Linked DNA regions of Homo sapiens. The protein of the gene in region 1 purifies or fractionates together with the protein of each later gene. This does not show direct contact. Each region holds a gene or a part of one and is shown on either strand. Other genes may lie near its edges.

Region 1 (5,733 bases):
ATTTTGCGAATCCCCAGACACATAAAGACCCGGGTTGAAGTCCTCGCAGCTGCCCTGGGTCCTGAGCTACCGCAGGGCCAGTGTGCAGCGTCCAGGGAGCCATTTTAGGAGAGAGATCCAGGGGCGTCGACCACGAGCCCGAAAGGGAGAGGCTTGGGCCTGGGATGGAGATGGGGAGGCAGATAAGTGTGCTGGGGGTCTGGGTTGAGGAGAAGAATGTCAGCTGGAATCTGGGCGGGGGTGCCAGCTGCGGGGAGGGAGCACACAAGATGGGCAGTTCTAGTTGGGGGAGGCTCGATGCCCTCCAGTCGCCACAGACCTATTTGCGCAGTGTTGGGGGAGGGAAGAAGACATGGGAAGGGGCGGAGGAAGGAGAGAGGAAGGGAGAAAGGGAGGGAGGAGAAAAAGAGGAAGGGGGGGTACATCAGCCAGAAAATAGATATTAGCTCAGACCACCCGCCTTTTCTCTGTCTGTCCGCACGGTGGGCAGAGCGCACAGCACCGGCACTGCAGCAGCCCGGGCCAGGGAGGGAACCAGCATCACAGCCAGCGCCGCCTGCCCTGGGTATAGGACTGAGGCCCAGGCCCCAGCGCTGGGATTGCCTGGGCGGAGGAATCTTGGGGAAAGGGGCAGCCTCCTGCCCTCGGTTCTGGGATTTGGGTTTGGGAAGAGACGGTTTACCTTTGAAAAGCGTCTGCTCACTCGGAGGTGGGATCCCAGGCCTTGCCTGGACCCATGGGCTAGGAGAGGGTCGCGGCAGGCTGGGAGGAGAGTGAGGCCTTGGGGGAGTGGATGGGGTGCCCCACGAAGAGTCTGCCTCAGAGCCAGGTGACACAGAGGGGCTCCAGGAGGGAGTCAGGCTCCGCTGAGAGCCCTTAGAGAGACAACCTATCTTGGGGGAGGGGCTGAAGTGACCATGCAGACCCAAGGGTACCAGAAGAGCCTCGGGGAAACGCGGCGTGGATTCGCAGGCCTTGGCGGGGCTCCGAAGCAGTGAAGGGTCTAGGTATAAGGCGGACACCCAGGCTAGGCCTGAAAGCAGAGGGGTGAGGAGGACGAAGGTGCGAGTGTGTGGGGGTTGTCTCTTGTGGGGAGCCAGCGGGAAGCCAAGCACCCTAAGAGTAGGACTCCAGATCCTTTTGTTCACCAGACTCCCCAGATTCTAGGGAGGCTGGGGACCACGGGCTGAGCCCCCTCCTGGCTTCAGTGCTGAAGGAGAAGGCAGAGAGGCAACGGGGAGAGAGACAGAGACAGTGACACACAGCTTAGAGGAAAGGAGGGGAGAGGATGAGAGGACAGAGAGAGAGAGGAGAAGGGAGACAGGAAAGCAAGAGGAAGGAAGAAGGAAAGCGGAAAAGAAGAGGAAGGAGAGAAGTGAAGACAGGAGAGAGAAGGGAGAAGACTGAAGAGAAACGAGGCAAGGAGAAAGAGAGACAAGAACAGAGAGGGAAACCAGAGAGAAGGGAAGAGAGCCGGGTGGGCACGAAGGCCCCGGCCTGGGTGAGTGCCTAGGTGGTGAATGGCCTGGGTTTTTCCGAGGCCAGCACTCGCACCCTTGGGGTCAGAACCGGAAAGAGCCAAGTCACTCCACTCTGAACGCGCTGGGCAGAAAAATATGTAAATCAGGGCTCCCTGCGCCCTGGAGAGTGGCGAAATTACTCCCGCCCGGTGAACAAGAAGCAACAAGCTCCCAGGCGGGTGAGCTGCAGAGGGTGGCAGAGTCGCGGGGGAGGGAGCGGCTGCAGTAAGGGGGGTGGGGTTCGGAACCTCACACCCTCACACCTAGTTCCTAGCTTCTAGGGAGCCTGGAGCCGGGGCTTCCCCCCCTCTGCTCGCTGCTTCTCTCCCTTCCCCCTTCCTCCCCCTCTTCCCCCTCCTTCCTCCTCCCCGCCGGCCTCGGTCCGCGTACTTAAAGCGGCGCGGGAGGGCGGACGCGGGCGGGCGGCCCGTTCGGGCGGTGGCAGATGCGCCCAGCGGTGACAGCGGCCAGCGGCGCGCAGGTGACCGGCCTGAGGCGCAGCCTGGTCAGGGAGCGCCCGGGGAGAGCTGGCGGCAGAGGGCAGCCGATCCGCCCCCAGCGCGCGCGTCTCGGCGCCAGGAGCCGTCCCGGGGCGTGTTGGCGAGCGTTGATATAGATATAAGGACATTTCTCTTCATGGCGTCACGTGACATAATTACCACCAGAATCAATCAAGATGAATTGCACGTCAGCGCCCGGTGGGGATTTTTGCTTAGTTGATCCTGGCCCAAGCCTCTTGTGCAATCGATGGCTCAGGTTGGCTGCGCGGGGAGCGGCCAGAGGCTCGCTGGCGCGCACGCCGCGGAGTCATGAACGACTTTGACGAGTGCGGCCAGAGCGCAGCCAGCATGTACCTGCCGGGCTGCGCCTACTATGTGGCCCCGTCTGACTTCGCTAGCAAGCCTTCGTTCCTTTCCCAACCGTCGTCCTGCCAGATGACTTTCCCCTACTCTTCCAACCTGGCTCCGCACGTCCAGCCCGTGCGCGAAGTGGCCTTCCGCGACTACGGCCTGGAGCGCGCCAAGTGGCCGTACCGCGGCGGCGGCGGCGGCGGCAGCGCGGGGGGCGGCAGCAGCGGGGGCGGCCCCGGCGGGGGCGGCGGCGGCGCGGGGGGCTACGCTCCCTACTACGCGGCGGCGGCGGCGGCGGCTGCGGCGGCCGCGGCGGCCGAGGAGGCGGCCATGCAACGCGAGCTTCTCCCGCCCGCGGGCCGCCGGCCGGACGTGCTCTTCAAGGCGCCTGAGCCGGTGTGCGCTGCGCCGGGGCCGCCGCACGGCCCCGCGGGCGCCGCCTCCAACTTCTACAGCGCGGTGGGCCGCAATGGCATCTTGCCACAGGGCTTCGACCAGTTCTACGAGGCAGCGCCCGGGCCCCCGTTCGCCGGGCCGCAGCCCCCGCCGCCACCCGCGCCGCCACAGCCCGAGGGCGCAGCCGACAAGGGCGACCCCAGGACCGGGGCTGGTGGCGGCGGGGGCAGTCCCTGCACCAAGGCGACCCCTGGCTCGGAGCCCAAGGGGGCAGCAGAAGGCAGCGGTGGCGACGGCGAGGGCCCCCCGGGAGAGGCGGGGGCCGAGAAGAGCAGCAGCGCAGGTAGGCACCGGGTACTGGGCAAGCGGTGGGCCCGGGGGCCGCGGGGGAGGGGGGGGGGGCGGAGGCCTCCCTCTGCTTGCGCCTTTTTATGTGCTACTTTATAAGCATTCGAAGAGGTTTATACATCCTATAAGATTTCCTGGGCCGTTGTAAAGTGTGTTTATGGTAGGAAACCAATTTAGGTGGGCTTAAGGTAGACTTCGAGGAGGACATTAATAGCTGTCGAGAGCCTTTTCCCAGTTTTGGGCAGGGGGTTGCTAGATACCATGGAGGGAGGGAGGGAGGGAGATTTCAAGCCAGTGTGAGTGCATACACCGGAGCCTCCTGCTTTTAAGGGAGAGAGGCGGGGGGTGGGGAAGTGGGGGGAGTTTGATCCTTGCACTGGACTTTATCCAAGCCGCTAGCTGACGCGCGCCGCTGGAGTCAAGCAGATGCCCCGGCGGGCCTGCTCTTGTCTCTGTTCCCTCAGGTTCCAGTTTAGAGCCTGCCTTGCCCTCTGCTTCCCCACCTCCGTGCCAGGCTCTGTGTGTGTGTGTGTGTGTGTGTGTGTGTGTGTGTGTGTCCGGGCGTGAACACATGTCCACGCCCGCACTCTCTCCTGTGCCCGCCCATATATCATCCCCCACGACGCAGGCAGGGCCTTTCGGCCGCGGCAGAGAACGTCCCCAACGGGGCCAGGGCCTGGCCCTCGCTCAGTGGCCCGGGCGGGCGGGCGGGTGGGGGCTGTCAGGCAGCGGCCTCTCTCACCCCCTGGTCTCTTTGCCTTGCAGTTGCCCCCCAGCGGTCCCGGAAAAAGCGCTGTCCCTATACCAAGTACCAGATCCGCGAACTGGAACGCGAGTTTTTCTTTAACGTGTACATAAACAAAGAGAAAAGACTTCAACTCTCTCGGATGCTCAACCTCACTGACCGGCAAGTCAAAATCTGGTTCCAGAATCGCAGGATGAAAGAAAAGAAACTGAACAGAGACCGTCTGCAGTATTTCACTGGAAACCCCTTATTTTGAGAGCTCCAGGAAGCGCCCTCACCCCAGCCCCACTCACCCACCCTCCTTCCCACCAGCCTGCTCTCCGCAGGCCCACTGTCCTTGGGTTTAATGACGTCTCTTCTCTGTGGAACTTCACGATTCCTTCCCACGGTCAACTCGGGACCTCCCAGCGACCACTGCAGCCTGCGGACGAGGCCGGGACTTGGCCGAGCGGATCCTAATAAGGGGAAAATGGTAAATGCAAACGTCCCGTTACAATTTTACCGCCAGTGTGCTGTCGTTCCCCCTCCCCCTCTCCGAGTCCTCGTGGGGACACGGCGGGGTCTGTAGGAAGTTGGGCCGGGTTGGGGGTTGCTAGAAGGCGCTGGTGTTTTGCTCTGAGTTTTAAGAGATCCCTTCCTTCCTCTTCGGTGAATGCAGGTTATTTAAACTTTGGGAAATGTACTTTTAGTCTGTCATATCAAGGCATGAGTCACTGTCTTTTTTTGTGTGAATAAATGGTTTCTAGTAAAATGGAGGTTACAGCTTCAATACACTGTATGAATTCTCCTCTTTGAGGTTTAGTGCCTCCTTAGGATATTTTAGTGGCCAGAACCCATGCAACTGAAAATCGAATGAAATACTTTTTAGTCCCACTAAAATAGTAGTCGTACCCTCCCACCACCTCTAGGTTACACTGGTTTTAAAAATCATGTTAGTGATGAATTTCTGAATTGACGATGTGACCAAGCAATGCTGGCGCTGCCTTCTCCAGGCAGTAAGGCTGGGGCAGCAGGAACCTAAGAAGAAAACTCCCACCCCCACCACTAGTCTAGTGAACTTGGGATTTCTGAAAAGACAGCAACCATTTTTAAAAACTGGTTAGAAAATCCAAATGATCTCTTACAAGCTAACAAGGAGTCACAGTCCCTTAAAAAAGAAGAAACCAAAATTAGAAACTTCCATTGAAGGGAGAAGTTTTCGAAAAGGAAGTCATCAGTAGGTGGAGAGGGCTTGCTGGTGTCATAAGTGGACCTGGAGTAGGGAAGGTAAACCCTCCCCGCCCCCACTGAAATAGGGCCAGGAGCTGCAGACCCTCTCACGGCATTTATCGCTTCAAGTTAAAGAATGTGGTGAGGGCTCTACTGCACTTTATGTTGCAGGGCCAGGCCAGGCTGTTTACAAAACCTTGAACTGTCTAGACAACACCATAAAAGCCAAAGTTCTAAACAGCTTAATTGGGTTATATTATACACCTTCTGGTGGGCCCAAAAGAGATTTCCGCAATGTGCAATAAACTGGAGAAGTGAGAAAAGCTCTCTCTCTGAAAAGAGTGAAGTGAATCTTATGAGTCTTAACCTCTCCTAAGCCCAAAGACAAAATATAAATCTATAAATGCACAGTACCCCATGCATCTTCCAAGGAGTCATGCACTTCAAAATGCAATTAAAAAAATTGCTAAGCCTTATTTGGGAAGGAAAAAATAAGTGCATAAATGTATGCCTTTGAACTTCCAAAATGTCAAGGTCATCACCTTTAACCTTTCTGAATAATTAGGCGCCTTAAGTTCTTCTTGATTTTCAGCTGCCACCCACTCTCACACATACATGCTCACACATATAGAGAGCCACACACACATTTATGACCACACAAAAT
Region 2 (3,500 bases), on another chromosome or scaffold:
GAAATAAACATGTATTAAAGTTCTACCCTCTGTACAGGGGCACCTCAGGTCATGTTGTGGAGTAGGAAAAAGGAATAAATTGAGTGAAGGACTTTAGTACCTCTAAGAACTCATGTACTGGCCAGGTGCAGTGGCTCATGCCTGTAATCCCAGCACTTTGGGAGGCCAAGGTGGGCGGATCACTTCAAGTCAGGAGTTAGACACCATCCTGACCAACATGGAGAAACCCCATCTCTACAAAACATACAAAATTAGCCAGGCATGGTGGTGCATGCCTGTAATCCCAGCTACCCGGGAGGCTGAGGCAGGAGAATCGCTTGGACCTGGGAGGCAGAGGTTGTGGTGAGCCGAGATTTGCCATTGCACTCCAACCTGGGCAATAAGAGTGAAACTCCGTCAAAACAAAAAAAAAAAAAAAAAGAGGAATACAGGTAGAGGCACATAAGGATTCATATCATTCAGATAATTTAGGTAGGAGGACTCCCCAGTCATTGCGTCTCTCCCCTCTTCTCCAACTTTCAGAATCTAAGATCAGCAGAAGCAGCAGGCTGTGCAGCTCCAATACTACTCCCGTGACCCCTGCCCTCCCTGGGCCCCCGAGGTCACTCTCCCTTAACGCTTATCTCTTGTTCCTACTAGTTTTTCGTCTGCCTACACACAGAGGACACCTACCCTTCCTGTCTACTTCTGTTGCTCTGCTCCTTTCTGATTCATTGCTTCTGCTTCCCACCCGTACTGCAAAGCTTAGCCATTTAAGGAAGCCAGACTCCCCAGAACACTGCTTAAGTGCTTACAGTTATATTAAATAGAAAAATAAAAGAATCAATGAAGATGCTCAAAGAGGAACGTGTACTTTGCACATATCATAGTGGACTTGTCCTAGGAGAATCAGAACTCTAGCCGAACTCATGTAATCCTTAAAGCTCGTGCTGTGATTATTGATTAAAAGAGAACAGCTGAGACCTTTGACACTTCAGAGGCCAGTGGTCTGTGCAGTCAGTCTGGCTTCTCTAACAGGGAAAGGCATGTAAGGAAAAGGAAATGAGACAGCCTGGGACACAAGTTCAAGTATGAACAATACTATCACATGTTCCATAGTGCCTATCAAACAAGTGTATGTCGTCATATTAGTCGCCTCCTTAGCCTCTGGCCCTCCCATAATACTCAAAGCCATCTGGCTATCTGCTCTTATTTGCAAGTAATCAGGAAAAGTAAAGTAAGAGGGTTGATAATATGAGCTTTGTGAACCCCAACTATCTCCATGTGCTTCAGCTCTGACCAGGAGAGAGCAACGTGGGAGGTGAGGTCTATTCGAAGTTGCCAGACTTGACCAGTTAACAGTGCAACGGTTTGAAGAACAATGACTCTAGCCCTTTAGAGGTTAAAGGCTATTGGGTAGATGTGTAGGCGTCTGCTCAGATCACATTCATAATAAACTTGCAATTCCATGACTCCATTATGCTGTATGATTTGACCCAAGGCATCAGAATCAAAGAGACCCATCAGATGCCTGAGGCAGAGATCAAAACAGGCAAAGTAGAAAAAGGACTCTCTAAGAAATGAGTTATCATCATCAGAGCTCCTGGTTCTATATCCAGTTGATGCCAGGCTTTCCTTGCAAATGGGTAGTGAGAGGACAACTACAACAATGTAGACTCACCCACAACCCCTTCTGCTGCTCACCACCCAGCATCCATCTGTGAGGTTTCTGAGCAGTGAGCCATTTGAGGTTTTAAATTTCATTTTACGTACAATTTTATCACTGAGATTTTTTTTTCTAAAATAAAGAAGCATTTAATTTTTTTCTCTCTTCAGCTGTTAGCACATTTAAGTTAGTTCCTGCTTTTTTTGTTTAGGTGGTTTTTGTTCATGATGATTTTTCTTCTCTTGCTCATTGGGATATAAGTGGAATATATAATTTTTTTTTAATGTTAGGATTTGTTGTTGTGCAGAGAAAAAAGGTAAAGGTCAAATGATCAAAGGCATTTGTTGATGACCCAGAAGAACGTTCAGATTTAAGCATTATTACAAGAGATCGTCTAATGCTAAGCGTAATTTTACTTGACATGTGGCAATTAATGTGTCAAGCAAAATGCTGCTTACCATTACTAGTCATTACTTTATTGTGGAAAGACAGCAGTCCCTTGGTATCCGCATGGGATTTGTTCCAGAACCACCGCACCACATATCAAAATCCACGCATACTTACATCCCACATTTGGCTCTGCAGAACTTCCCTCTAGGAAAAGTTGGTCCTCCTCATCCTCAGGTTTTTGGATCCGGTGAACACGGTATTTTCAATACTCACTTGGTTGTGGATGCAGAACCCACAGATACCAAGGGCCAACTGTACTTATCGAAAAATATCCACATGTAAGTGGACCCACACAGTTCAAATTTGTGTTTCTCAAGGATTAGCTATATTTATTGCGTGCTTGAAAACCAAGCAGGTAGGATGGTATTGTAGACAAAGCACAGGCTCACTTTTTTTTTGTTGCTATTTTTATGATCTTCACTTAGTATAAGAGTTTCTGTCAAAAACTGCAGCCTCCAGTACCAGTAGCAAAGCATTTCTAAAAGGTTTTGACTAAGGTACTTAATCAGTGCATGGCCCGATGCACTACATGTATGAATTTCATCTTTACTACATTAGATTTCTACCAATTGTATATAAATAGCCTAGTATGCTTAGTTAGGACAATATGTTTAATATTGGGGATGATCCTAAGAAATTATAGATTTCTCAATATGGTATTCTAATTAAAACCTAATTAGCAATTCACTGTGCTAGAACTTGGATTTTTTTCACATAGAAATAATTTCACTACGCATAGAAAGTAAAGATGTATTTTTTGGAGACATTAGAATTTCAAAAATATAAGGCAGCACATGTGGAATGTAGAGGTGTTAAAAATCTTAAGTGTGGGTTTCTCTATAGCTCTAAGCTTGAACAGTTTTGTATAATCAGCGAGCTTGCCAAACAGTATCAAAAAACTCATTTTCTTCAAGTGCTTTATTTATCTTTAATAGAACCTTCATCACCCTGGTGTTGTAAATTTGGAGTGTATGTTTGAGACGCCTGAAAGAGTGTTTGTTGTTATGGAAAAACTCCATGGAGACATGCTGGAAATGATCTTGTCAAGTGAAAAGGGCAGGTTGCCAGAGCACATAACGAAGTTTTTAATTACTCAGGTAAGAAATCAATTAGAGACGGAAAAAATACAATATTTAATATCAAATGTTATCACTGTTTAACTACAGCTTTCTAGCCTTGTTGTTTAGTCCCTACCTCCAGTCTAAACTACACTAGAAAAGGTTGTAGTGGCTTTATTGTATTATGTGATTTATATCTATATTAATCAGAGTCCACAGTGTACCAAATTAGTAACATGTTTGCAGGTCCATGTATTCAAACTTTTCATGAAATTTTAAAATGTACATTGGTTTAGTTTTGGTTCTTTGAGAATATTTAAGAATGGGTGTCCCTGTTAGATATAGGT

Evidence for each region. Proteins that work in one complex are often made in the same cells at the same time.
Region 2: the proteins of HOXD11 (region 1) and PRKD1 purify together in Homo sapiens (affinity purification with mass spectrometry; one large-scale study listed by BioGRID and IntAct). This does not show direct contact.

The regions. Positions count from the first base shown.
Region 1 is NC_000002.12:176,105,027-176,110,759, forward strand, and holds HOXD11 (homeobox protein Hox-D11), read left to right. Parts: upstream 1-2,253; 5' UTR 2,254-2,329; coding exon 2,330-3,110; intron 3,111-3,880; coding exon 3,881-4,116; 3' UTR 4,117-4,728; downstream 4,729-5,733. UniProt on the Homo sapiens protein: Sequence-specific transcription factor which is part of a developmental regulatory system that provides cells with specific positional identities on the anterior-posterior axis.
Region 2 is NC_000014.9:29,599,348-29,602,847, reverse strand, and holds part of PRKD1 (serine/threonine-protein kinase D1), read left to right. Parts: intron 1-3,030; coding exon 3,031-3,192; intron 3,193-3,500.